Homo sapiens: one gene and its partners. The gene in region 6 interacts genetically with the main gene of each other region. Each region holds a gene or a part of one and is shown on either strand. Other genes may lie near its edges.

Region 1 (2,890 bases), on a different chromosome or scaffold from region 6:
TATCATATTCTGGTTCAGCAGAAATCAAGAATAGCTTTCATATTTTACTGGTCTACTAATATTCCAGGGAAAGGCTAGGCAGGATTCACATGAACATTTGTCAAGTTCTTAGATGTTAGTGTCTCAGAGATTACATACCACAAGTAAGCTGTAAAATCCTCATTTAACAAGAATGTGAAAGAACTGTGGCGTTCTAGGTATTTTAATTTTTTGAAAAGCTTTTTCTCTTGTATAAGTTTTTTTAATATTGTAAGTCTCTTTTCTATTAGGTTGTCTTTCTTTGCTTACTGAAGGGACTGGTGCCTTGGGGTCTTTATTCTGAAGATAAAAGATTTCTAGGCAGAACTACTGATGCAAAGAGAAGAAATCAGCCTGGATGTATCTGGATTATAGGATAGCTGCTAAAATCATGTTTGTGATTGAAAACCTAAAATAAGCTAATTTGTTTTTTCATGTACCTCTTCCTCCTAAAAGCTAAGTAAACAAAAAGACCCAGCATAAAAAGGATGAGAAGAGATTTTAGTTATTCAGTGTTTTCAGAGTTTCAACAAGGGATACAGATACAAGCAGCTTCTTACAGAGTTTACAATCTGGGGAGAGAACATGAAAGACACTGTTTAACAGGCAAATAATTCCAGGAATAAATATACATGAATGTGTTTTTCAAAATACAGGTTCTTATACAAATGTATAACTAAATACTGATTCCATAGTGGGGTGGTTGTAACTGAAAGGGCTTTGAGAAAAGGCTTTGAATAAAACTAGTCATCCACCTAGCCAAAGATCCTTTCCAGCAGCACAAAAGGAATTTGTAAGGAGAACAGAGATTAACTGTCAGATATCTTTCTAATCTGTAAATTTATCCAAAGTTTGAAAATACCATGAAGAATCTTAGGAATGCCAGTAACCAGGGAATGGGATATTTGCATATCACAACATCTACAGGCTAAATACACTCCGAATGCTTCTCAATGTGGGGAAGTATGAGAAGTTAATAATTCTCCTAGTGTCTGGCTTCCTTTTTCTTTGCCTTTCCCTCTCATACGTTCAATCACCTGTGTTACAGGACACACATAAGTAGTTGGAAGGTGTTAAACTTTGACAGCAAAGCAAAATCAGAGGTAGAGGCAAATGTTTAACCAATCATGTTCAAATATAAGCTACTCAATGAAGAGTTTTAGGTTTAAAGAGCGAAATATTCACCATTACTGAGAAATCTCAGTTTCTCATTCAATTTCGCATTGCACTTTGCTACCACAAACTAAATGGGTGTACATTTTTGAGTGCTGATTTATTACTCAAAGGTTTGAATTTGGAGACTGAAACAAACCATGCTTTATCTGTGTACTTTGAGAAAATCCATCCACAAGAAAGGAGCCAAGCGTCAGTTTCCAATGGGGGGAACATTCTCATGGAGGTACTGTAAGGCTAAGTCTGTCCACTTCATTTCTTGTTCTTTGACAGATTCTGTGGTGCCACCATTGTCTTGTTCAGGTTCAGGAAGCTCATTCTGAAAAGGTACAATAGAAATTCAGAACAGTAATATATTCTGCATCTTCTTGGAACTCAAGAACACTTAGAATTAAAGCTTGTGAGTTCCTAGGAACAGGCAACATAATTGATATGTGTATTCTAAAAAAGCTAAAATCATACACGTGAGGAAACTATCAGAAGTATCATTCAAACATGGCCCGGGCCTTCTTCAGTAGGGAATGATGGGCATTTTGACTCTGACATTTGTGAAGGAGGCACTGTGGCAGAAAGGTTAAGGGCAGAGGCTTTTGGAAGCCAACTAGGATCCAAGACCACAACTCTCCCATTTGCTGGGTTACTTGGGCAAGGTATGCAAACCCTTGGGGCCTTTGTTTCTTCCTTGGCAAATGGGAGAACAAAAGAGCCATCACCTCACAGGACTACTGTAAGGATTAGGTGAGGTAATTCAGATCAAGTGCTGAGCACTCTGTGGGGTATCCAGTGCTCAAGGAATATTTGCTATTATTATTAGCGGCTAGGAACACTGAGATGAGTGAATCCTAAATCTTCTTTAGCGGGAGCGTGCTTTAAAAGAATACTAGTTTGCTGGCATATTCCTTAGACACAAGAAATGTATCCAAAAAATTATCTTGGACCCAACATGTCTTTTTTTTTTGAGATGGAGTTTTGCTTTTGTTGCCCAGGTTAGAGAGCAATGGCGTGATCTCGGCTCACCACAACCTCTGCCTCCCGGGTTCAAGCGATTCTCCCGCCTCAGCCTCCCGAGTAGCTGGGATTACAGGCATGCACCACCATGCCCGGCTAATTTTGTATTTTTTTATTTTTTTTTAGTAGAGATGGGGTTTCTCTATGTTGGTCAGGCTGGTCTCGAACTCCCAACCTCAGGTGATCCACCCGCCTCAGCCTCCCAAAGTGCTGGGATTACAGGCGCGAGCCACCGCGCCTGGCCCAACATGTCTATATTATAATAAAAATGGAGGTAGGGCAGGAAACACTGAAAATGTAATTAATAGATAAGACCTCCCTCTAGTGGTGGAGCAGAGCAACAAAAAACACAACAAATGACCAATTCACACCCTACCAGCAATTTTCTTAAAATGGTAAGTCATGGGCCACACTTACTGTAGGATCTGGGATCATTTACTTGTATTTTAAGTTTAAATGTATTACTACTGAAACTCTGCTTTGTACCAGAGTTCACAGATACCAATATATTTCTTTTCAATTATCTGTGTTTTGTTTTATGGTTAGCAAACTGTTATGCGATATCCAGACTTAAAATTTTCCACTGGATTCTAATTTGTAGTATGTGAATATGTTTTCCCCTCTAAAATTATGCTCAATATATATTAAATGATATTTACTTATCTATATTTGAATCACATACATCTTGTTC
Region 2 (3,965 bases), on a different chromosome or scaffold from region 6:
ACATAGCCACACTATGGCCCTTCTCATTTTTTTGAGATGAGGCCTCACTATGTTGCCCAGGCTACACTTTAACTCCTGGGCTCAAGCCATCCTCCTGCCTCGGCCTCCCAGTAGCTGGGGTTATAGGCCTGTGGCACTTCATCAGCCATGGCTGCTTTTCCCTTGTGTCAAATCTTCAAGTTATTCAAACACAATTTGGGTAGTGATGTGGAACCATTTTGCAGATGAAATTAAAGACCCTCATCAGGTAACTTTAGGGGAGATTATCCTGGGTAATCCCAGAAGGCCCGATCCAATCAGCTGTAAGTCTTAAGCACAGGGCTGAGGCTCCCTCCAAGTACCCACTGGGAACAGCAGCTTCAACCTGAGCCCTGAGTCCCAGCCAGCCCCCACAATCACCTATGCCCATTCTTCAGAATACATTGGATGCATGTGCACACACCGTCTCCCCCTAGTTTTCTCTGCTTGAACCCCAATAAGATGAATGTTAAGGACAAGACCAGAAAATGGTTATCAAAATTCAAGACTAAGAGGGGGCCAGACACCTGTGCACACCTCCCAGAACACTAAAGCCGACCCTCCCCAAGGTAAGGTTTGGAACCAGGGCCCATCATGCCATTGACTGTGGGTGTCTAGGCCTCAGGGCCCTCATCTGAAAAATGAGCATGGCAGGTGCCTGGCAGGGACTGACACCCAGTGCCAGTAAGAGGCAGTGAAAACCTTCAACAGCCAGTCCTATCACTGCCCAAGCCACTCAACTGGGAAGGCTGGTTTCAAAAACTGAGTCTCCAGCCAGGACACCCCAAGCCCCAATGAATTCTTGACATCTGCAGCCTGAGGAAGTGGTCTGCAGAGCCACGTGCCAGTGCAAGACACTGGTAGAAGAGTGAGCCCAGCAACAAATTGGGAAGGCTAACCACTCTCAGCCCACGCACCAAGAAAAACCTCTTTACCATGTCCCCGGCCAGGGACGGCTAGCACTTGGCTTCCTGCAGCCAACCCTCCCTATGTCCAGGCAGACTCACCTTGTAGAATTTCCTGAGGTTTTCTTTCTGAGTCTGGTTAATAACTGTGAGAACACGGGCAATGGATTTCCGGACGACTCGGCTACAAAACAGAGATGTCAGTGAAGATAGGGAAGACACATAGCACTACCCAAGACTCAGGACTCACACATAGGGCAGCAATAGCTGCAGCCTCCCCCATCAACCCATCCATATTCACTCAGGAGGAAGGCGTTCTGGGAGTGAGGTCTGAGGAGGGAAGAGAGGGGCATGGGAGAGACAGCAGAGGCTTTATGAGGAAGTGCAGGCTGGATAAATGAGGCAGATCAGAAAAAGACCTTCAATCCCAGAACACGAATTTATCCTGAGGGCTAAGACCCAACCAATGCCAATTTCAATGAGCTGATGGGAAGGAATCATGCCACAAACCAGGCAATCAGGCTAGCTTAGGGAACTGCAGGAGAGAGAAACAAGACATTTGCAAAGTGGAGTCACTACAAGCCAGGAGACTGAAGCAAACAACGAGCCAGGGAGAAGTTATTTGTAGTCATGTCAGGATGAGGGAGTCACCTAGTAGACAGCTGGTCAACATGGTTTTTGAGGATTCAGTGTGCAACTGTGCTTGTCCAATCCTCCCACCCCTGCCTCTACTAAGGTTGTTTGGGGGCAAAGAGGGCAACCACCATTTTTTTTTTTTGGAGACAGGGTCTCACCTGTCAACCAGACTGAAGAGCAGTGGCCCCATCATAGCCTCCCAACTCCTGGGCTCAAGTGATCCTCCTGCCTCAGCCTCCAGAGTAGCTGGGACTACAGGCCTGTACCACCACACCCATCTAATTTTTTTTTGAGAAGTGGACTTTGTACCCAGGTTGATGAACTCCAAACCCATGTTCCTTTCACAAGTCTCCCGCACTCTTAGCCATGTAAAATAACTTACGCTGCCACTCCAGGGTGCAAGCCACCCACCTGCCAAGGGGGTTAAAAACTCAAGTGTTGGTGGGAAGCGGAAGGAAGGGGTCCGGGTAGGCTTTGAAGGCAGCATTAAGATGGGTCTCCGGGGATGCATTCCAGGCACAAGGACCGCAAGGTCAAGGCAGGTAAGAGGCTAAGCACACAACGGGTCTCCCATGCGCGCCAGGATGCACGGAGTGGGCATCTAAGCGGCCAGCTCCTTAAGCCAACTTTGAAATCCTCCGACGATCCCGATGCACACGTGCTCCCCACCCACGAGGGCTGTGATCCGGCCGCCTCACTTACATCTTAGAGAGCTTGGAGGCCGCACCGCCTGTCACTTTGGCGACGCGCAGCTGGGACAGCTCCACCTTCAGGTCGTCCAGCTGTTTCAGCAGCTCCTCCTTCTTCTTCCCGCGAAGATCTCGAGCCTTGATCTTGGCCTGCGCGCAAGAGAGAGTGTGCCTCAGCCAGGCCGCGGGGCCATATCCCCTTCACCTGCGTGGCCAGCCCCCAAAGGCGCGCGACTCGCCATCGACTACGAGTGCGCCGGAGCCCCAACCAGGGCTCAGGACAGTCTCCCTCGCCGGCCGTGCCTTGGGCAGAGTAACCCAGGCCCGGGCCGCGCGCCTCTCCCGGCGCCAAGCGAAGAGGCGGGTTGTGGTGGCGCCAGACCATTCTGCGCGGCGCCCCACAGGCCTAGGTGGCAGATAGAATCCGCGGGCTCAGCCCGCACCGCCTTCCCCAACCCCCGCGCCTCACAGCGCTCGGATGGCGCCCGATTCCGCAGCTCTCACCATTGCTGCACAAGCCGCCAACGCCGCCGCCCGCTCCGAGGGAAAGAGGAAGTAGGCGGGGCTGACCTCCGCAACTACTGCCGGGTGGCGGCGGGCGCGGCCAATGGCGCCGCAGCGGGGGAGCCCCGGCTCCGCCTCATCTCCCCCGCCCCCGAGGAACGCCGTGGTACTGCCCGCCCCGCCTGGTAGGGCCGGAGCCCCGCCTTGTAGTGCTCGCCTCATTCACGGCACCCCTGATAGCGAGGTCGGCGTCACGGTGTAGGCGCGCAGTTGGGGAAACCGAGGCCCAACGTGGGCGGCAGCTACCAGAGATGGCACACGGAGGACTCAAATTCGTCCATTCAGTCATTCGTTCATTCATTCCTTCGGGAAACCTTGCAGATCTCCCAATCTGGGCAACTCTGAGCTGGGCGCCAGTAGTCTGGGGGTGCTGACGGGAGGAGGGGCCAGAGTTTTCAAAGACGATTAACCGAGGCTCACGTCGCGGAGGAATTTAAAGCGCGAGATGGACGGGAGGGGCGGGCTCAGGCAGTTATAATCCAACTCCATAAAGGTTCTGGGGAGGCAGTATATGGAACTGCAAAGAGCATTTACACCTTTTTTTTTTTTTTTTTTTTTGAGACAGAGCTTCATTCTGTCGCCCAGGGTGCCAGGCTGGAGTGCAGTGTCGCGATCTCGGCTTACTGCAACCTCCGCCTCCCGGGTTCAGCGATTCTCCTGCCCCAGCCTCCCGAGTAGCTGAGTAGCTGGGATTACAGGCATGCACCACCACGCCTGGCTAATTTTTTGTATTTTTAGTAGAGACGGGGTTTCGCCATGTTGCCCAGGCTGATCTTGAACTCCTCAGCTCAGGTGATCCCCTCGCCTCGGCCTCCCAAAGTGCTGGGATTACAGGCGTGAGCCACCACGCCTGGCCCCAGCCTTTATTTATTTTTTTTATTTTTTAATTTTTTTTTTCAGACAGGGTCTCGCTCTGTCACCCTGGCTGGAAGGCATGGCGCGCTCTCCGCCCACCAAAACCTCCGCTTCCCGGGTTCAAGCAGCCCTCCCACCTCAGTCTCCCGAGTAGCTGAAACTACAGGCACAAGCCACCAGGCCTGGCTAATTTGTTTATTTTTTGTAGAGCTGTTGCCCAGGGTGGTCTCCTGGGCTCAAGCAATCCGCCCTCCTCGGCCTCCCAGAGTGCCTAGGATTACAGGGGTTAGCCACCTCG
Region 3 (3,500 bases), on a different chromosome or scaffold from region 6:
TCCTGATACTTGTAATTCTACTTTCTTTGTTTTGTCCCATTATCAGTCTGGCTACACTGTTCTCAGATAACTAGCTTTTGGTTTCATTGATTTTCTTTATTGTTTTTCTGTTTTCTATTTCTTTGATTCTGCTCTTATATGTATTTGTTATGCTTACTTTGGGTTTAACTTGTTTTTTCTCTTCCTTGTTTATTAAGGTAGAAGCTGAGGTCATTGTTTTGAGACATTTCTTCCTCTCTGATATAGATCTTGAGTGCCATAAATTGCCTTCTAGATATTGTTTAAACAGTGTGCCACAAATATTAACATGTTGTATTTTCATTTTCATCCACTTAAAAATATGTTCTAAAACTCCCTTTGGCCCGCTGGTTATTTAAGAGTGTGACTTAATTTTCACACACATGGGAGATTTTCCAGGTATTTTTTCCTGTTCGTGATTTTTAATTTAATTCCCTTATCAGAGATCATATTTAATTTGAGGTCTGTTGAAGTTTATCAGACTGGTTCAGAATATGGTCTCTATAAATGTTTTATGTGTATTTGAAAAGGATACATTTTCTGCTGCTGTGAAATTTTGACTATAACTTTTGGATTTTTCTGTTTCTCCTTTCAGTTCTATTGGTTTTTGGTTGTGTATTTTGAAGCTCTTTTATTAGGTGCATAAATGCTTAACATTGTTCTAGTTTTTTGGTGGATAATACACTTATTATGAAATGACCTTCATTATTCTTGGTTAATATTTGCTCAGAAATCTATTTTATTTGTCATTAATACAGCCAGTTATTCTGACTAGTGTCAGCATGGTGTGTTTTTTTCTATTCTTTTATTTTAGCCTGTTTGCATCTTTATGTTTAAAGTGGACGTTTTTGTAGGTAACATAACAATTGGGTCTGGCTTTTTTTTATTTTTATTTTTTATTTTTTATTTTTTTTGAGATGGAGTCTTGCTGTGTCGCCCAGGCTGGAGTGTAGTGGCGCGATCTCGGCTCACTGCAAGCTCCGCCACCCGGTTTCATGCCATTCTCCTGTCTCAGCCTTCCGAGTAGCTGGGACTACAGGCGCCCGCCACCACGCCCGGCAAATTTTTTTGTTTTTTTTTAGTAGAGATGGGGTTTCATTCACTGTGTTAGCCAGGATGGTCTTGATCTCCTGACCTCGTGATCTGCCCGCCTCTGCCTCCCAGAGTGCTGGGATTACAGGCGTGAGCCACTGCGCCTGTCCGGGTCTGGCTTTTTTATACAGTTTGAGAATCTCTGCCCCCTCTTTTTATTGGGATAAAACATACATAAAATTACCATTTTGACTGTTTTAAAGTGTACAATTCAATGGAACCAAGTATGTTCAAATTGTTGTGCAACTGTCACCAATGTCTATTTCCAGAACAATTTTATCATCCCAAACAGAAACGCTACCTGTTAAACAGTAACTCCTTGTCCCCCTCCCCACTTTCTATCTTTATAAATTTGCCTATTCTAGTTACCTTATGTAAATGAAATCATAATATTTTTCCTTTTGTGTCTGGCTTATTTCTCTTAACATAGTGTTTTCAAGGTTTGTCCATGTTGTTGCATGTCTCAGAATTTCATTCCTTTTTAAAGCTGAATGATACTCCCATTGTATATGGGAGTATATGTCACACTCTGGACACTTTGGCTGGTTCTACCTTTAGTCTATTATGAATAACACTGCTATGCACATTGGTGTACAAGTATCTTTTTTAGTCCCTGCTTTCAGTTCTTTTGAGTATGTACCTGTGAGTGGAATCATTGGATCATGTAATTCTGTGTTTAGCATTTTGAGGAACCACCAAACTGTTTTTCTAGTCTGCTTTGTAATTGGGCCATTTAGAACATTTATATTTAAAATGATTATTGATGGCCAGGCATGTTGGCTCACGCCTGCAATCCCAGCACTTTGGGAGGCCAAGGAAGATGGATCATTTGAGGCCAGGAGTTCGAGAGCAGCCTGGACAACATGGTGAAACCTCGTCTCTACTAAAAAAGTAACAAAAAAAAATTAGCTGGGCATAGTGGTACAACACCTATAAACCCAGCTACTCAGGAGGCTGAGGCACAAAATCACTTGATCCTGGGATACTGAGATTGTAGTGAGCTGAGATTGTTCCACTGCACTCCAGCCTGGGCGACAGAGCGAGCCTCTGTCTCAAAAGACAAAAAAAGATTATTGATATGGTTAGATTTAAATCTGTCATCTTACTATTTGTTTTCTGTCTCATCTGTTCATTGTTTCAGTTTCTTAAGTCTTATGCCTTCTTTTAGGTTGTGTTTTTTTTTGTCTTTTTGAGAGGAGTTTCACTGTGTTGCCCAGGCTGGAGTGCAGTGGCGCGATCTCAGCTCACTGCAAGCTCTGCCTCCCAGGCTCACGCCATTCTCCTGCCTCAGCCTCCCGAGTAGCTGGGACTACAGGCGCCTGCCACCATGCCCAGCTAAGTTTTTGTATTTATTTATTTTTTTTTAGTAGAGACAGGGTTTCACCGTGTTAGCCAGGATGGTCTCTATCTCCTGACTTCCTGGAATTACAGGTGTGAGCCACCGTGCCCGGCCTTAGGTTGTGTTTTTATGATTTCATTTTATTCCCTTTGCTCACTTATTAAGAACTCTTTACTGATTCAGTCATCAGCTTCTTCACTTCATATACTTTAACTGCTTGGCTCATGCAGTCCTCCATTTATCAGCTTTCTGACCATCGGAAAATGACTTAAATGCCTAAACTCTAGAGAGCCAGAGCTTCTTGTTAAAACCAAACCCCAAGATTTTTTTTTTTTTTTTTTTTTTTTGAAGACAGAGTCTTGCTCTGTTGCCCAGGCTGGAGTGCAGTGGTGCAATCTCTGCTCACTGCAACCTCTGCCTCCTGGGTTCAAGCCATTCTTCCTCAGCCTCCCAAATAACTGGGACAACCAGTGTGCACCATGACGCCTGGCTAATTTTTGTATTTTTAGTAGAGGTTTCACCACGTTGGCTAAGCTGGTCTTGAACTCCTGACCTCAGGCGATCCGCCTGCCTCAGCCTCCCAAAGTGCTGGGATTAGAGGCGTGAGCCACCATGCCTGGGCCCTAGATAAATTAAATAACACAGTTCAATTGAGCAATGAACAGTTTGCCAGTTGAGTGGCCCTCAGAACCAGAAGAGGTTTGGGGAGCTCTTGAAAACAGAAGTGAGGTACAGAAACAGCTTAATCTTTTGGCTTATTTAAACATGGCCAGATAAGTTGGCAACCTGTGATTGACTGAAGCTCGACTGCTGCGATTGGCGGAGACTCTGCTTTTTGTTACAGAAGTATGCTCCTAAGTTAGGCTTTTCCTTAGTGGACTTTATGTAAGTAATATTGCAGTTCTTCAAGTGAAGAATCAGTAAGGAGCCATCCTCAGGCCAAATTTGGTGTAAGTTAACACACTACGCTACACTGTGCTGCTCCCTACAGTTTCCCCCTCTGGTCATCTCTGTGCAAGGGCTGAAAGCAGAAGGCTGCGTGTCCTCATTT
Region 4 (3,500 bases), on a different chromosome or scaffold from region 6:
CCTGGCTGATGGGTCCTGTCTGGCATTTGTCACGTTGTTTTAAGGTTAGCATCTATGAGTCCATTTCCTTTGCTAAATTGTGAATTTCTTAGAATCAGGGACTATGTTTTATTTATCTTTGTATCTTTCATACCCATACCAGGCTAGTATAGATGCTTAGGGGTATTTGAGAGCATAATAGAGTGGAAATGAATATAGTTTTATTTTCATTGAGACAAAAATCAAATACTTTCTTAACAATGCTGTAGGGGCTCTGACTGATCTGGGAGTCAAAAATTACTTTAAAAGCAAAAGGAACATTTTGTATGTGTGTGTGACTGAACATAACTGTAGGCTGAAAATATTTTCTGAACCATTTCTTCCTTGATAAATTGGATGGGGTGGATATTGACTAGGAGAGTTTAAAACACTGTTTACAAAGGACTGCTGTTAACCAGTCAGGTTACAGGGCACACACAGATTAGGAAAAAAGGTGGGCTCCTAACTAGCTGAATCTTCCAATCTTCCAATTGTAGAGAAATTATTTTAGGAAGGAACTTTTTTCCTTCTAAAACATCTGCAAATGTTGTGAAAGCATTATCAATTTCAAACCCTAGTTTCATATTTACTACCTGAATTCCACACTACTCATAATGCTACTGTCATTCGCACCTGTAAAATGCCCTGTTGTGGCCAGAGCTGTAAGTGCTTGAATAGATGACTCAAGGCAGAGACACTTTTTGTGTGACAAAGCGTAAGGAGGGGGTTTGGGGGCAGCTGACCTGGAGGGAACATATACTCTTTGAGTAAAAAGCTTTTGAAGTGAAGTAAAAGGAGAAAACTATCTTCCATAAGTAACACAAACTAATTTTGGGGGGTTGGGGTGATGGCTAAAGGAGATTTCAGAGCAGCTTCATTTTTGTAGTCTTCTGATCTATGCCCCAAAGGACCTGATGCATTTCATCTGAGCCTCAAATTAGGAGATACGTTTTTGCGAGAACAAAAGCGGTGCTATCCTTAGGTATTCCACATTCTCAGCTGTGGGCTATTGGTCCAAATGCTGATGAATCCAATGTGGGCTGGAATCCGAGTTATTATTTGATGTGTCATCCTCTCTTGCTGATTTCATGACAGCAAGACAGGGGCAGCATACTGAGTTTCAAAACAATGGAATGGAAGACAAACAAGTCAGTCTAACGCTCATGACTGGAAACCACTGGTCCATCAGTGGGGAGTAAGTACCGTGGGGACATTTTTACAAAAGTAAGTCTAAGGAAGAATTCCATCCCCTCCGTTTCTTCTTTGCCCAGGAAGGGACAGAGTGGCTTATCCTACTGTACCTGCCATGACTTGATACAGTACCGATCCGGCCTGCTGGGGCCATGAAGGCCTTCTTGGATCTTTAGTGTTTTGCAGTGGAAGCCTTGAAGCAGAACCACTGGAATCAAGCATCCTCTGGAAGACTTGTGGCTTGTGCTCCTTGCTCACAGTTGGGCCTGGATGAACTCAGGGTAGCAAGTGCTACCAGCAAGCTTCTTCCTTGTTGGAAGAGCCCATTGAAGTAAAAATCAATAGCGACAATGAAAAACTCCAAGATCCCCAATCAATAAAAATCCTCACATATACTTTTTTTTTTTTTCAAATATACCTCTTTGAAAGATAAATTTCTGCTCAAAGGGACAATATTCTTGCTGGATGCGTTTCTGTAAATGCTTCACAGTTTGAAGACAAAGGAATGCAACTTCCCAAAATGTGCCCGAGGTGGAAGTACTTCCTGGCTAGTCGGTGTAAACGTTGCAAAACCAGTCTGTGGGTCTAAGAGCTAATGCGGGCATGGCTGTTGGGATGGAGGACCTGCTGTGGCTTGGTCCTGGGTATCGAAAGAGTCTGGATTTTTAGGGCTCATACTATCCTCCGTGGTCATGCTCCAATAAATTCACTGCTTTGTGGCGCGACCCTTAGGTATTCTGCATTTTCAGCTGTGGAGCCCTTAAAGATGCCATTTGGCTTGGCTTCCTTGGGAAAGAAGTCCTGCTGGTAGTCAGGGTTGTCCAGGCTAATTTGGTGGCTGCCTTTCTGGGCCCAGTGGGCAGGGCTGTCGAATGTGCTGTTGACACAGGTGGGCTGGACAGTGTTGAGATACTCGGGGTTGCCCACTGCAGTGCTGTGGGGGTCCTGGTAGTGTGGGTCTCTGCTGGGCGCGGGGTTCAGAGGCTGATTGTGATAGACAGGATTCTGCACAGAGCCAGCGGGCCTTTTGGGAACGGACTGGTTTATGTATTCTGAAAGTGGAAAGAAATCAGAGGTGAAGTAATCAGCAAAGCACCATCCCATGCAGGATCCCTGGGTTCTGAACCCTGTGAATGTCCTCAACAAGGAGACTTATGACAGGGAGCAGGAGCCTCGGGAGGGCCCTCTTGCTGTTGCTGCAAAAGAAAGTGGGTTCTTTCCTGTCCTTCTCAAAGTAATGGACATATGTGTCTTTTGTAAATTTAAAGTTCTCAGAGGATAAACTGCCTTGAGGAGAGTGTGTGTATGTGTGTGTGTATGTGTATGCATGTATACATATATGTGTGATGTGTATGTGGTATGTGTGTCTGGTGTGTGTATATGTGTGTGTATGTGCACCGTGTGTGTGGTGTATGTGTGTGTGGTGTATATTTGTATGTGTGTGTGGTGTGTGCATGTGGGTGTGTGTGGTGTGTGTGTACGTGTGTGTATATGTGGTGTGTGTATACGTGTGTATGTATGGTGTGTGTGGTGTGTATGTGTCTATTGTGTATGTATGTGTGGTATGAGTTGTGTGTGTGTGGTGTGGGTGTGTATGTGGTGTGTCTATGTGTGTCTGTGGTGTGTGTGGTGTGTGTACGTGTGTGTGGTGTGTGTATGTGTATGTATGTGTGGTGTGTGTCTGTGGTGTGTGTGTGGTGTGTGTACGTGTGTGTATGTGTGGTGTGTGTGTGGTGTGTATGTGTGTGGTGTGTATGTGTGTGTGTATATATGCGTATGTGTGGGGTGTATATGTTTGTGTGTGTGTGGGGTTTTTGTGGTGTGTGTGTGGTGTGTGTATTTGTGTGTGTTGTGTGTATATGTGGTGTGTGTGTACATGTGTACATATGGTGTGTGGTGTGTATATGTCTATATGTTTATGCATGTGTGGTGTCTGTGTGGTGTTGGTGTGTATGTGTGCATACATATGTGTATGTGGTGTGTATGTGTGTGTGTGGCGTGTGTACATGTGTGGTGTGTGGATGTGTATGTATGTGTGGTGTGTGTGTGGTGTGTATGTGTGTGTGGTGTGTGTGTACGTTTGTGTATATGTGGTGTGTGTGTACATGTGTATGGTGTGTGTCGTGTGTGTCTGTGTGTATGTGTGTGTGTAGTTGGTGTGTGTAGTTGGTGTGTAAAGAGGTATATCATCTGCCTTAACTTGCATTTTTCTAATAGCTTATAATATTGATAATCTGTTTATATTATATTAGATAGCCAATAAACTATATATTAGATATTACACTAACATA
Region 5 (3,500 bases), on a different chromosome or scaffold from region 6:
TCAACCCTTTCAATCTTCTACCAAATATAACATCTCTCTCGTCAGAACCCCTACAGTACTTTACTTTTACTTATGTTATAGTGATTATGTATTCTCGCTAACAGTGCTAAACAGTGACCTTTGCATAGTATATGCACTAAAGCTTACTTACTCAATGAAATAAACAACATTAGTAAGGCTGGATGCAGTTGCTCTTGCCTGTAATCCCAGCACTTTGGGAGGCCAAGGTGGAAGGAGAGTTTGAGCCCAGGAGTTTGAGACCAGCCTGGGCTACATAGCAAAACCCATCTCTACAAAATAGAAATTAGGTGTGGTGGCACACACCTGTAGTCCCAATTACTCAGGAGGCTGAGGCAGGAGGACTGCTTGAGCCCAGGAGAATGAGGCAGCAGTGAGCCATGACTGCACCACTGCACTCTAGCCTGAGTGATAATATTACAATGCTGTGATACATATTTATAAACACATATGCTGAAGGAATTAAAAATAGCACTATCTTGTTTAAGAAAGACTTTTTAAAAACAATTTATTTTGAGACAAAGTCTTGGTCAGCCACCCAGGCTGCAGTGCAGTGGCACGATCACGGCTGACTGCAGCCTCAACCTCTCGGGCTGAAGCAATCCTTCCACCTCAGCCCCTTGATAGGTGACACTACAGGCACGGACCACCACGCCTAATTTTTGTATTTTTTGTAGAGATGGGGTTTTGCCATGTTGCCCGGGCTGAACTCCTGGGCTCAACTGATCTGCTGGCCTTGCCTCCCAAAATGTTAAGATTACAGGCATTAGCCAATGTACCTGGCCCACCAAAGGACTTTCACATACACTTTTCTTATGTATCTTAACTAGCAATGAACTGCTTCTCTAAGAAACTTGATTATTAAAGCTGCGAACTGCTTAAGCAAACAAACTTTATGACCGAAGCAGTACAAGAAGTAGTTCATAATCTCCACTGAATAGTAAGCTACATCTGCTGGAAAACTACCTAAGTAAACACTTCCTGCTAATCAGATAGACCTGAAACTGATTTTGGAGGGTGGCAGGGAAGCCGCCACTGAAGTTTTAACAGCATCTGCAGTGAAAGGCAGGAATTTAGTTGCAGTGGGGATATTTAGAATTTGCCACACGGCACTTGAAAAAGCTAGTCTAGTTTTTGGTGCAAACTGCTTTAACATTAGGAAATAAACCATACAGGGTTAACAGATTGCTATTTTGATCTTAGTCTTTATATGAAAAACAAAGATGACGGCATTCCATCTAATGGTTAGATAATAAACCATTTTTTTTGGTTAGTTACTCTTGGGTACTGTCAGTTCAGAATGAAGTGAACTAACTTTCTGCCACCCAAAAGTGAATTAATGTAAAGCTATTTGCAGAGTTTGGTTTTCACATAACCAAAACTTCTCATTCAGCTATGAAAGAATGACAACTATGTCATGTGGAGGACCTAATTAGTCCACTATCTGTACAGATCACTTCTCTATTTCATTTCCTCAATTTATCTAAGGCTGGGGATGATGGCTCATGCCTGTATTCCTAATACTTTGGGAGGCTGAGGTGGGAGGATTGCTTGAGGCCAGAAGGTCAACACCAGCCTGGGCAACATAGTGAAACCTGGTCTTTACGAAAAATTAAAAAAAAAATAACCAAAAAAAAAAAAAAAGCCAGGCATGGTTGTTGCATGCCTGTAGTCCCAGCTACTCTGGAGGCTGAAGCAGGTGTAAAGCGCAGGACGTCAAGGTTGCAGTGAACTATAATCGCACCACCGTACCCCAGCCTGGGTGACAGCGAGACTCTGTCTCTTAAAAAAAAAAAAAAAGTCTATTACATCATTTCCTATTTTTGAGAGTTGGGGCCAAAAGAGAGAACAGTTGATGCTACTTCTGTCATCCAATTGCTGATGCTTTTCTCTGAGTTTATATTGTTCAGAAGGAAAAAGCAAATGAGAAAGCTGACCACTGGCAAGTGGAAATTACATTCCAGAATATTCTTGAAGAGAAAAATAATTCAAAGTTTCTGAGTTATTCCTACTGCCCAATTTTCTGACTCTCTTTTCACTTCTTACCATGAAGAAGGCACCCCGGTGATAATACTTCTGTAAGAACTTGTATTTGCCCTTAACAGCTTTGTTGGTAATGACTTTGCCGTTTGCCCGAAGTTCAGCTCTCCTCTCTTCCTCAGTCAGGTTTCGCATGCGTTCAATTTCTGCTTTCTCCTTCTCAAGCCTGTCCAGGGAGCAAAACAATTTATTGGTACTGTTACAGCTTCAGAAAGACCAAATTATCTGAAAATAACAGTCCCATGTCATTTCAAGTATTAGTCACCTTCTTTAATTCTAGTCATTGCCTATTAGGAATCAAGATAAGGAGCTCAATAAACAAATGGGTGAGTTAGTCTTCATTATGTTTGCTAGACTAGGTATTGCCAACTTTCAAAAGTTGATTCTAGCCCTTCTGACGTTCAGACATACTATTACTGCTGGGTTTTCCAACATTACAAATTCTCTTTCCCTAAAAGGTCTTCTTAGCTTTAAAAAAAAAAAAAAATCAGTGAATTTAAAATAAGTGTCTGAGGCTTTGCTGGTATTCCTTTATGTAAGTGTATCATAATCATATAGGTGCTTGCATGTCATAAACCAAAGATTACCATCATTAATTAGATTGCAGTAACTTTTTTTTTTTTTTTTCTTTTTGGTGAGATGGAGTCTTGCTCTGTCGCCCAGGCTGGAGTGCAGTGGTGTGATCTTGGCTCACTGCAAGCTCCGCCTCCTGGGTTCATGCCATTCTCCTGCCTCAGCCTCCCGATTAGCTGGGACTACAGGTGCCCGCCACCATGCCCAGCTAATCTTTTTGAATTTTTAGTAGAGACGGGGTTTCACCGTGTTAGCCAGGATGGTCTCAATCTCCTGACCTCGTGATCCGCCCGCCTTGGCCTTCCAAAGTGTTGGGATTATAGGCGTGAGCCACTGCGCCCAGCCAGATTGCAGTAACTTTTTAGCCAGTGTTGGGGAGAGGGAGTGATATCCCTTGTCTCCAAATAAAATGCATACATACACACAATTTTGTGTACAATTTTATATTTTTTTGAGATGGAATCTTGCTCTGTTGCCCAGGCTGGAGTGCAGTGGCATGATCTTGGCTCACTGCAACCTCTGCCTCCCAGGTTCAAGCTATTCTCCTGCTTCAGCCTCCTGAGTAGCTGGGATTACAGGTGTGTGCCACCATGCCCGACTAATTTTTGTATTTTTAGTACAGACAGGGTTTCACCATGTTGGACAGGCGGGTGTCAAACTCCTGACCTTGTGAGCCGCCCACCTCGGCCTCCCAAATTGTTGGGATTACAGGCGTGAGCCACCACGCCCGGCCTTGTGTACAATTTTAAAGGGCACTTAGACTCCTACTCCTACAGGTCCAGGATAAAAATCTTAGAAACTACAGGCTGAGGGCCAGGCGTGGTGGCTCATGCCTGTAATCCCAGCACTTTGGGAGGCCGAGGTGGGTG
Region 6 (2,936 bases):
AATTTGTAAGGAGATTGTGATTATAAGGAGATCTTTAAAAAAAAAAAAACCTGGGCTGCGGAATATATTAGGAAGTTATCAATAATTATATTAGGAAGTTATCAATAATTCATCTGTAAAATTGGAGATGTTAATATCTACCTCACTGAGCTGTTGGGAAGATTAAATGTAATCCAGGAAGCACATTTAAGTAGAGTGCTAGGCAAATGATGCTTACTGCTTTGATGGTCAGTTTGTTTTTTTTTTTTTTTTTTTGAGACAGAGTCTCGCTCTGTCGCCCAGGCTGGAGTGCAGTGGTGCGATCTCCGATCACTGCAAGCTCCGCCTTCCGGGTTCATGTCATCCTCCTGCCTCAGCCTCCCGAGTAGCTGGACTACAGGCGCCCGCCACCATGCCCGGCTAATTTTTTGTATTTTTAGTAGAGATGGAGTTTCACCATGTTAGCCAGGATGGTCTCGATCTCCTGACCTTGTGATCCGCCCGCCTCGGCCTCCCAAAGTGCTGGGATTACAGGCTTGAGCCACCGCGCCCGGCTGATGGTCAGTTTTTACACTCACACATGCACACACACACTGTCCAAAAAGTGAAATCTCTCAGTTTTATAGATTTGAGTCCTTGACCAAAGACTGAAAGAGTAGTGAAGCCACACATCTTTGCCTTTGTCACACATAATGATAATTTCCCCCATGACACCTTTTACTGGCACTTAGTCCCTTAAGTGCTTCTGAAAGTAAAACTGATGGGAAGTTTTTTATATCTGTTAGATTAGCAAAGATCAAAGACTTGATAATATACAGTGTTCTGAAGGTATAGGGAAACAGTACTCTCACACATTGTGTAAATTATCCTAACCCTTTTGGAGGACATGTTGGCAATACCTTAAAAATTTTAAAGTCCACATGGTCTTTGACTTAGAAATTTCAGTTCTAATCATTCTTTATATATATATATATATATATATATATATGTATATATATATCTGTATATAGATATATATGCTTCTAGCTGTGCAAAAAGACATTTATACAGAGACAGCTTTGTTTGTAGTAGACAAAGATATGAAACAAGCTAATGTCCATTAAGCAGAGTGGATAAGTAAATCATGATACATGGACAAAATGAGTGGACTATTCTGTGTTTCAGAATGGGCATGACCGATATATATGTGTATTAATGTGGGTCAGTCTCCGTGATATAACACTGAGCAACAAAAGCAAGATACAGAACGCTATGTATTATGTGCATAAAATAGCTCTGAAAAGATGGGCAGGGCGCGGTGGCTCACGCCTGTAATCCCAGCACTTTGGGAGGCTGAGGCGGGCAGATCACGAGGTCAGGAGATCAAGACCATCCTGGCTAACACAGTGAAACCCCATCTCTACTAAAAATACAAAAAATTAGCCGGGCGTACTCGTGGGCGCCTATAGTCCCAGCTATTTGGGAGGCTGAGGCAGGAGAACGGCTTGAACCGGGGAGGCGGAGCTTGCAGTGAGCGGAGATCACGCCACTACACTCCAGCCTGTGTGGCAGAGTGAGACTCCATCTCAAAAAAAAAAAAAAGTGTTGGGAGAGCATAGAATGAATATAATACAGTTGAAGCTTTGTATAGATACTTTCTGGTTAGGGATGAGAATGCCCTTCTGGTCTTTCTGAGTACCAGCCTGCATTTCTCTATGTCATGTCCTCCCTCAGGTATTTGAGTACAGCATCCCAGACAAACAGTATACAGATTGGAGCCGGACTGTCCAGAAGCAGGGCTTTCACCACCTTTGGCTCCAAAGGGATACTCCTATCACACACATCAGTTTTCATCCCAAGAGACCGATGCACATCCTTCTCCATGATGCCTACATGTTCTGCATCATTGACAAGTCATTGGTGAGTTCTTCACTGCTACCTCCCAAATCTTCTTCTGAATCTTAAAGTTCTAAAAGCAACAAGTACAATAAGGTAAGAGGACAGAGACTCAGAATAAAGGTAGCTAGTAAATCAGAATACAGGTAGCTAGTACATTTCTTGGAGGAGAGGGGCTTTTGTTTTACAGATTCCCTGGTTTGTGTTCCCACAGTTCTTCGGGAGGCTCTCGGGGAAGGGGCTGGCCTTTGTATACTGGCTTTTGCTGATTTGACTATTTGTCTACTTTGCGAGTAAGCACATAAATCTTACACAGAAAAGTGATTAGGCCAGTATTCGGAAGGTGACCCTCATCCGGAAGTATCATTGATTTGGCTAACTTGCTTTCAACTTTGAACTCTGGGGTATCTGAATAACCTGGTTTCATTAAAGGAGGTACAGGCTGAGGTTTTGACCTCTGTGCCCCTTCGCTAAAGCTACTAAAACGCTGTCTGCAGGCTTGAGGAACTGGTCTTAACATCTTCGAAAAACCCAGCTAGGAAAATTCTTCATGGCTGTGATTTACATGGGATACGAGCATTTTCTTCAGTTTTAGATTCTGTCCTCTTTGCCAGCTGCTGTTTTGATTCACCCTGAATTTGTATGGCTTTTCTGGGCAGGTGCTTTGTTTCCTAGGAGCATTGTGGCCATGCCTGTCCTGCACTTTGGGCTTAGATTACAACCATCACACGGTGTTTTGGTGTGTTTGTGAAGGTGGGGGTGGAAGGAACATGGGGGAAAGCAGCAGATGGCTCTAAAGGAGGTGTGCACGGGGATGTGTCACTGGAATCATCTCGTGGGCCCTGCGACCTCTGGGTGTGGGAAGCAGAGCTGGCTGACAAGTGCCTTCTGCAAGATGAGTGATACAGGAAGGGCCCCTCCCACTCTCTTGCCTCTTTGTAATTGAGCCCAGATCATTTTTTCCAAAGCATTGGCTTTAAGTTCATCGCTTCCTTACAGTAGGCATAGCTATTTCCCAGGAAGTCAGAGACAAAATATCATTTCTTTGGCCAGAGGCCACCTCGAGGTGTCAGTGACATCAG
Region 7 (4,198 bases), on a different chromosome or scaffold from region 6:
CCAATCACTCCTCCACCTTCCACTGCTCCCACCTTAGTTGAAGCCACCATCACTTCAGATCATGAGTATGGTCCCTAATCCACCTCCCTAAGCTTGCCCTATCCCCCTTCAATCTCCCATCAGCAGCCAGAGTGAGCTTAAGTCCAGATCAAGTCCCTCCTCTGCTCCACCCCTTCCAGTGCTTCCCAGATTACACAAAGTAGAAGCCAAAATGCTTACTCTGGCTACAAGGCAGGCCCACGCCCGCCCACCTCAGCTCTCTGCTTACATCTGCCCCTTCTCTCCCCCTCACTCACTCTGTTCCAACCCCACTGGCTTGCTTTCTGGGGCTAACCTTCATTGAATGCTTCTAGGTATCAGGCTCTGTGCTAAATACTTTACAGGCACCATCTCACTGAATTCTAAAGAAAATCCTAGGCCAGGCACAGTGGCTCACGCCTGTAATCCCAGCACTTTGGGAGGCCAAGTGGGGGGAAATCATCAGAGGTCAGCAGTTCGAGACCAGCCTGGCCAACATGGTGAAACCCTGTCTCTACTAAAAATCGAAAAAAATTAGCCAGGCGTGGTGGAGGGCGCCTGTAATCCCAGCTACTCGGGAGGCTGAAGAAGGAGAATTGTTTGAACCCGGGAGGCGAAGGTTGTAGTGAGCCGAGATCACGCCACTGCACTCCAGCCTCGGCAACAGAGTAAGACTCCATCTCGGAAAAAAAAAAAAAAAAAAAAAGAGAAAATCCTATGAAGTAGGCCATGCTATTATACTCACTTTGCAGAGGAGGTAACCAAGGCTTGGAGTGGTGACATAACATGGGGAAACCTCTGAAGCCTGCACTGATCTGCACCACCCCACCTACAGTCATGGTCAAAACCTCAGACTTACAGCATGACAGGGCAGGCAGGGGTGGGGTGGGGGATAAGGAGGGGGCAGGAAAAGCCTGGTTGTACAACCTGATGCTGCAAGAAAGGGAATACACACCTTTTGTTCTCACCTGGTTTTCAAAGCTTTCACACAGATCAACTTGTTTACTCTCTCCACAGAGCCAGCAACAGATGCAATGAGCTTCTCTTCTCCCATATACGTTCCATGGCCCCTGATGCAAGGCGAAGATACAAAGAAAGGATACGAGGGTAACTCGAAATGACTTCTCTCCCTTCAAGAACAACGTGTTCCTCAAAGCTAACAGGCTCCCCCTGCAAAGCGTGGCTTCTGTGCTGGCTGCTCCCTCTGCCTTCAGTGCTCCTTCTCCAGACAGCTACTTGGACATCACTCCTCTCACTCAGGTCTGCTCAGGTGTCACTTTCTGCAGCAGGCCTACCTTGACTGTGCCATTGAAAACACAGCCCACCCTGTTGCCACCATTCCCCCCACATACCATTGACCCTGCTCCACTTTTTTCCCTATTGCATTATTGCCTAACATTCTGAATAACTTATTCATTGCGCTTATTATCTATCTCTCCCTGTTAGAACTCCACCAGGACAGAGATTTTTCACTCTGCCATAATAACCCAACTGCACAAAATATATGTTGAAAGCATTAATGAAAGAATGAATCTTAAGATTTCCTAGGGGCCAGGCATGGTGGCTCATGCCTGTAATCCCAGCACTTTGGGAGGCCGAGGCGGGCAGATCACACTTGAGGTCAGGGGATCGAGACCAGCCTGGCCAACACAGTGAAACCCTGTCTCTACTAAAAAAAAAAAAAACCAAAAATTAGCTAGGCATGGTGGCGTGCACCTGTAATCCCAGCTACTCAGGAGGCTGAGGCAGGAGAATCACTTGAACCCAGGAGGCAGAGGTTGCAGTGAGCCGAGATCGCACGACTGATCTAAGACAGACTCCGTCTCAAAAAAGAAAAAAAAATTTCCTGGTATCCACTAACCTTAAACTAACAGGTTAAAGGGCAATGCTATGAATGCTGTGCCCCTTGTACATATACAAGTAAAAAAATAATAATAATAAAGGTTGAAACACTAGTGTTATCTATGATGATATAATGGCTGGTTTTACTTCTTTTCTTACATAATTGTCTCATTTAATCCTCATTACCGTATCATACTGTTATTATCACTATCTTACAGATGAGGAAACTGACCGTGGAGAGGCAATGCCGCTAATAAGATGTGATGGTAGCAGGACCGGAACCCCAACTGTCTGACTCAAGAGCCTTCCCTCTTAACCACAATACACTGCACTACACCCCTTAGATTCAAAATGTGTATAAATGGGTGCATGCAGCACAATGTAACTGTTTGCCCTAAGATCGAACAATTACGGATTCTAAACTGAAGAGGAGGCAGCCAAGAACGCCCACCGTCCCCTCAGAGAGCTGAAAACTGGAAAAGAGCCTGCACCTAACCCTCCCCAGCTTTCCAGGTCTCCCACAAGGAAGGATCAAAGATTTGGACTTCAGGCAGAAGACCCAAAAGTCACAGCCACCGGAGGTCAGGAGTGGAGGGTTTCAGGGAGCTGAGACAAATGCAGACGGGGACACACAAGATGCAGGGAGCAAGAAGCACGAGGCTCGGAAGCGAGGTGTGTAGGATGCTCAGACGAAGTGCCCTGGGTCCCGCGGGGAGTTACACACACAGGGATACGAGGCCTGGACCACGTGCAGAGAGCCCTGAAGCCGCTCTCTGAAGCCTCGACTCCCCCAAGTCCCCACGTACCGCATGAATCCTGTGTCCGTAGTGATTGTATCCCCCGGCACCACTAGATGTTTCTTAGTGTCGCGGCCCAGTCTCTCGCTAAGAGGCTTGCGAGCCACTGGAAGCCTCATCTCCATCGCCATCTTGGCGCCAATGAGTTGCGCAGGCGCAGCTCAGTCGGGAGCTGCGATATCCGACTCCACAACTCCAGGCCGCGTTCGGAGGGGCGGGGAAGGGCGGGGACTCAGAGCAGCTGCCAATGAGAACTCACGGCCTAGAGGCCATGTTTACAATTGGCAACAATAAGGCGAACCCGAAGGGAAGGGAGCCGAGCTGCCATGTCTACTATTGGCAAGGAAGCACCCGTGGAATAATAAAATCTCACGTTGTGTGGCGTGTGACTTTTTACCAAAACTGTCTTGTACTCATCATCCCATTTATTGTTTACCAGGGTTAGAGATAATTGAGAAACGGACCTCTGAGTTTCTGTCCAATTCTAAGCTGCTGAAATCCGATATTTTGTAAGAGAGAGCTCAGGAGGATGGAGAGATGGGATCTACAGAAAACACTATTTGAACAGAAAGAAGAGCCCCTTTCCACACGGTTCCCAGTAGCGCCAGGATTCTACATTGCGGCCGCCCCGTGGGTGCTGGCTCAACATCATCATCTATAACCCCAAACCGGGCTCCAGATACTTCTCACTTGGTTCTGTCCTTTCATAAGGACTCCTTTGAACAAGCTAATTTACTCCAATATTTCTTTTGGAAACAAGTTAAAAATCGTCTAAGAAAACAGGTCAAACCTTGCAAGCCAGGTATATTTGGTAGGGAAGGGAAGAGCACACACAATGCGAAGATCTTGGCTTGCATTTAGTTACACAGCGAGTTGAGCGCTCTCTGTGTGCCAGGCGCTGTTCTAAGGACTCAGCGGGGAACAGACGGATGTCTCTGTGGGTTTTTCTGCGGCTCCGTTTTAATAGGAGGGTACCCCTCGCCCCTTCTCCCCGTCCCCCACTACCCTCTCCCTCTCCTTGCCCTGCATTCACAAGAAACTAATTGGGGATGGTAACTCCCCATGCACAGGGACTCTAAAGACGATTAAATGAAATCATTGGCATCAGCTGTGGTCAGTAAAGCCGGTAAACCAAGTCCGCCTCCTGAAGAAAGATCCATCGAGCCAATTGTTTTATAAATCTCCAAAGCGACAGCATTTCTTCCACTTAAGCAAGTCTCACGACCACACTTAAGAAAGCCAGCCCTGCCAGGCAGTCGATGACATGAATGCTAGTGCCCCGAGGCCCTGGGTAAGCGGGCTGCCAGACCCTCGCCCTCTGCCGTGCCTGGAGGAAGGCACTAGAGCCCAGCCCCTCGGTCCAGTCCTGCCGCGGCCATAAGAGGGCGATGGTGTCCTCTGAGCTCGCGTAGCCCGGCAGCCGGGGAGCCAGGCCCAGCGAGCGGCCCTAGGCGGAGCGAGAGTGTAGGCCTGACACCATCCAAGTTCTTCCCGGGAGGGAGAGACGTCGCCTTTACCCCGCGCATTCTCACAGCGTTCAC

Evidence for each region.
Region 1: changes in UTP4 (region 6) and ANAPC13 together harm fitness more than expected from each alone (negative genetic interaction), as found in Homo sapiens cells (one large-scale study listed by BioGRID).
Region 2: changes in UTP4 (region 6) and RPL35 together harm fitness less than expected from each alone (positive genetic interaction), as found in Homo sapiens cells (one large-scale study listed by BioGRID).
Region 3: changes in UTP4 (region 6) and XRN2 together harm fitness more than expected from each alone (negative genetic interaction), as found in Homo sapiens cells (one large-scale study listed by BioGRID).
Region 4: changes in UTP4 (region 6) and EGFR together harm fitness more than expected from each alone (negative genetic interaction), as found in Homo sapiens cells (one large-scale study listed by BioGRID).
Region 5: changes in UTP4 (region 6) and MFAP1 together harm fitness more than expected from each alone (negative genetic interaction), as found in Homo sapiens cells (one large-scale study listed by BioGRID).
Region 7: changes in UTP4 (region 6) and EXOSC2 together harm fitness more than expected from each alone (negative genetic interaction), as found in Homo sapiens cells (one large-scale study listed by BioGRID).

What each region holds. Positions count from the first base shown.
Region 1 is NC_000003.12:134,477,206-134,480,095, forward strand, and holds the end of ANAPC13 (anaphase-promoting complex subunit 13), read right to left. Parts: intron 1,511-2,890; coding exon 1,385-1,510; 3' UTR 501-1,384; downstream 1-500. UniProt on the Homo sapiens protein: Component of the anaphase promoting complex/cyclosome (APC/C), a cell cycle-regulated E3 ubiquitin ligase that controls progression through mitosis and the G1 phase of the cell cycle.
Region 2 is NC_000009.12:124,859,158-124,863,122, forward strand, and holds the start of RPL35 (large ribosomal subunit protein uL29), read right to left. Parts: upstream 2,801-3,965; 5' UTR 2,756-2,800; coding exon 2,753-2,755; intron 2,399-2,752; coding exon 2,262-2,398; intron 1,108-2,261; coding exon 1,026-1,107; intron 1-1,025.
Region 3 is NC_000020.11:21,309,831-21,313,330, forward strand, and holds part of XRN2 (5'-3' exoribonuclease 2), read left to right. Parts: intron 1-3,500. UniProt on the Homo sapiens protein: Possesses 5'->3' exoribonuclease activity. May promote the termination of transcription by RNA polymerase II.
Region 4 is NC_000007.14:55,204,017-55,207,516, reverse strand, and holds part of EGFR (epidermal growth factor receptor isoform a precursor), read right to left. Parts: intron 2,262-3,500; coding exon 1,900-2,261; 3' UTR 1-1,899. UniProt on the Homo sapiens protein: Receptor tyrosine kinase binding ligands of the EGF family and activating several signaling cascades to convert extracellular cues into appropriate cellular responses.
Region 5 is NC_000015.10:43,807,691-43,811,190, forward strand, and holds part of MFAP1 (microfibrillar-associated protein 1), read right to left. Parts: intron 2,225-3,500; coding exon 2,065-2,224; intron 1-2,064. UniProt on the Homo sapiens protein: Involved in pre-mRNA splicing as a component of the spliceosome.
Region 6 is NC_000016.10:69,163,649-69,166,584, forward strand, and holds part of UTP4 (U3 small nucleolar RNA-associated protein 4 homolog), read left to right. Parts: intron 1-1,692; coding exon 1,693-1,878; intron 1,879-2,936. UniProt on the Homo sapiens protein: Ribosome biogenesis factor. Involved in nucleolar processing of pre-18S ribosomal RNA. Part of the small subunit (SSU) processome, first precursor of the small eukaryotic ribosomal subunit.
Region 7 is NC_000009.12:130,692,382-130,696,579, reverse strand, and holds the start of EXOSC2 (exosome complex component RRP4), read right to left. Parts: upstream 2,801-4,198; 5' UTR 2,789-2,800; coding exon 2,667-2,788; intron 1,089-2,666; coding exon 987-1,088; exon of another isoform or gene 974-986; intron 1-973. UniProt on the Homo sapiens protein: Non-catalytic component of the RNA exosome complex which has 3'->5' exoribonuclease activity and participates in a multitude of cellular RNA processing and degradation events.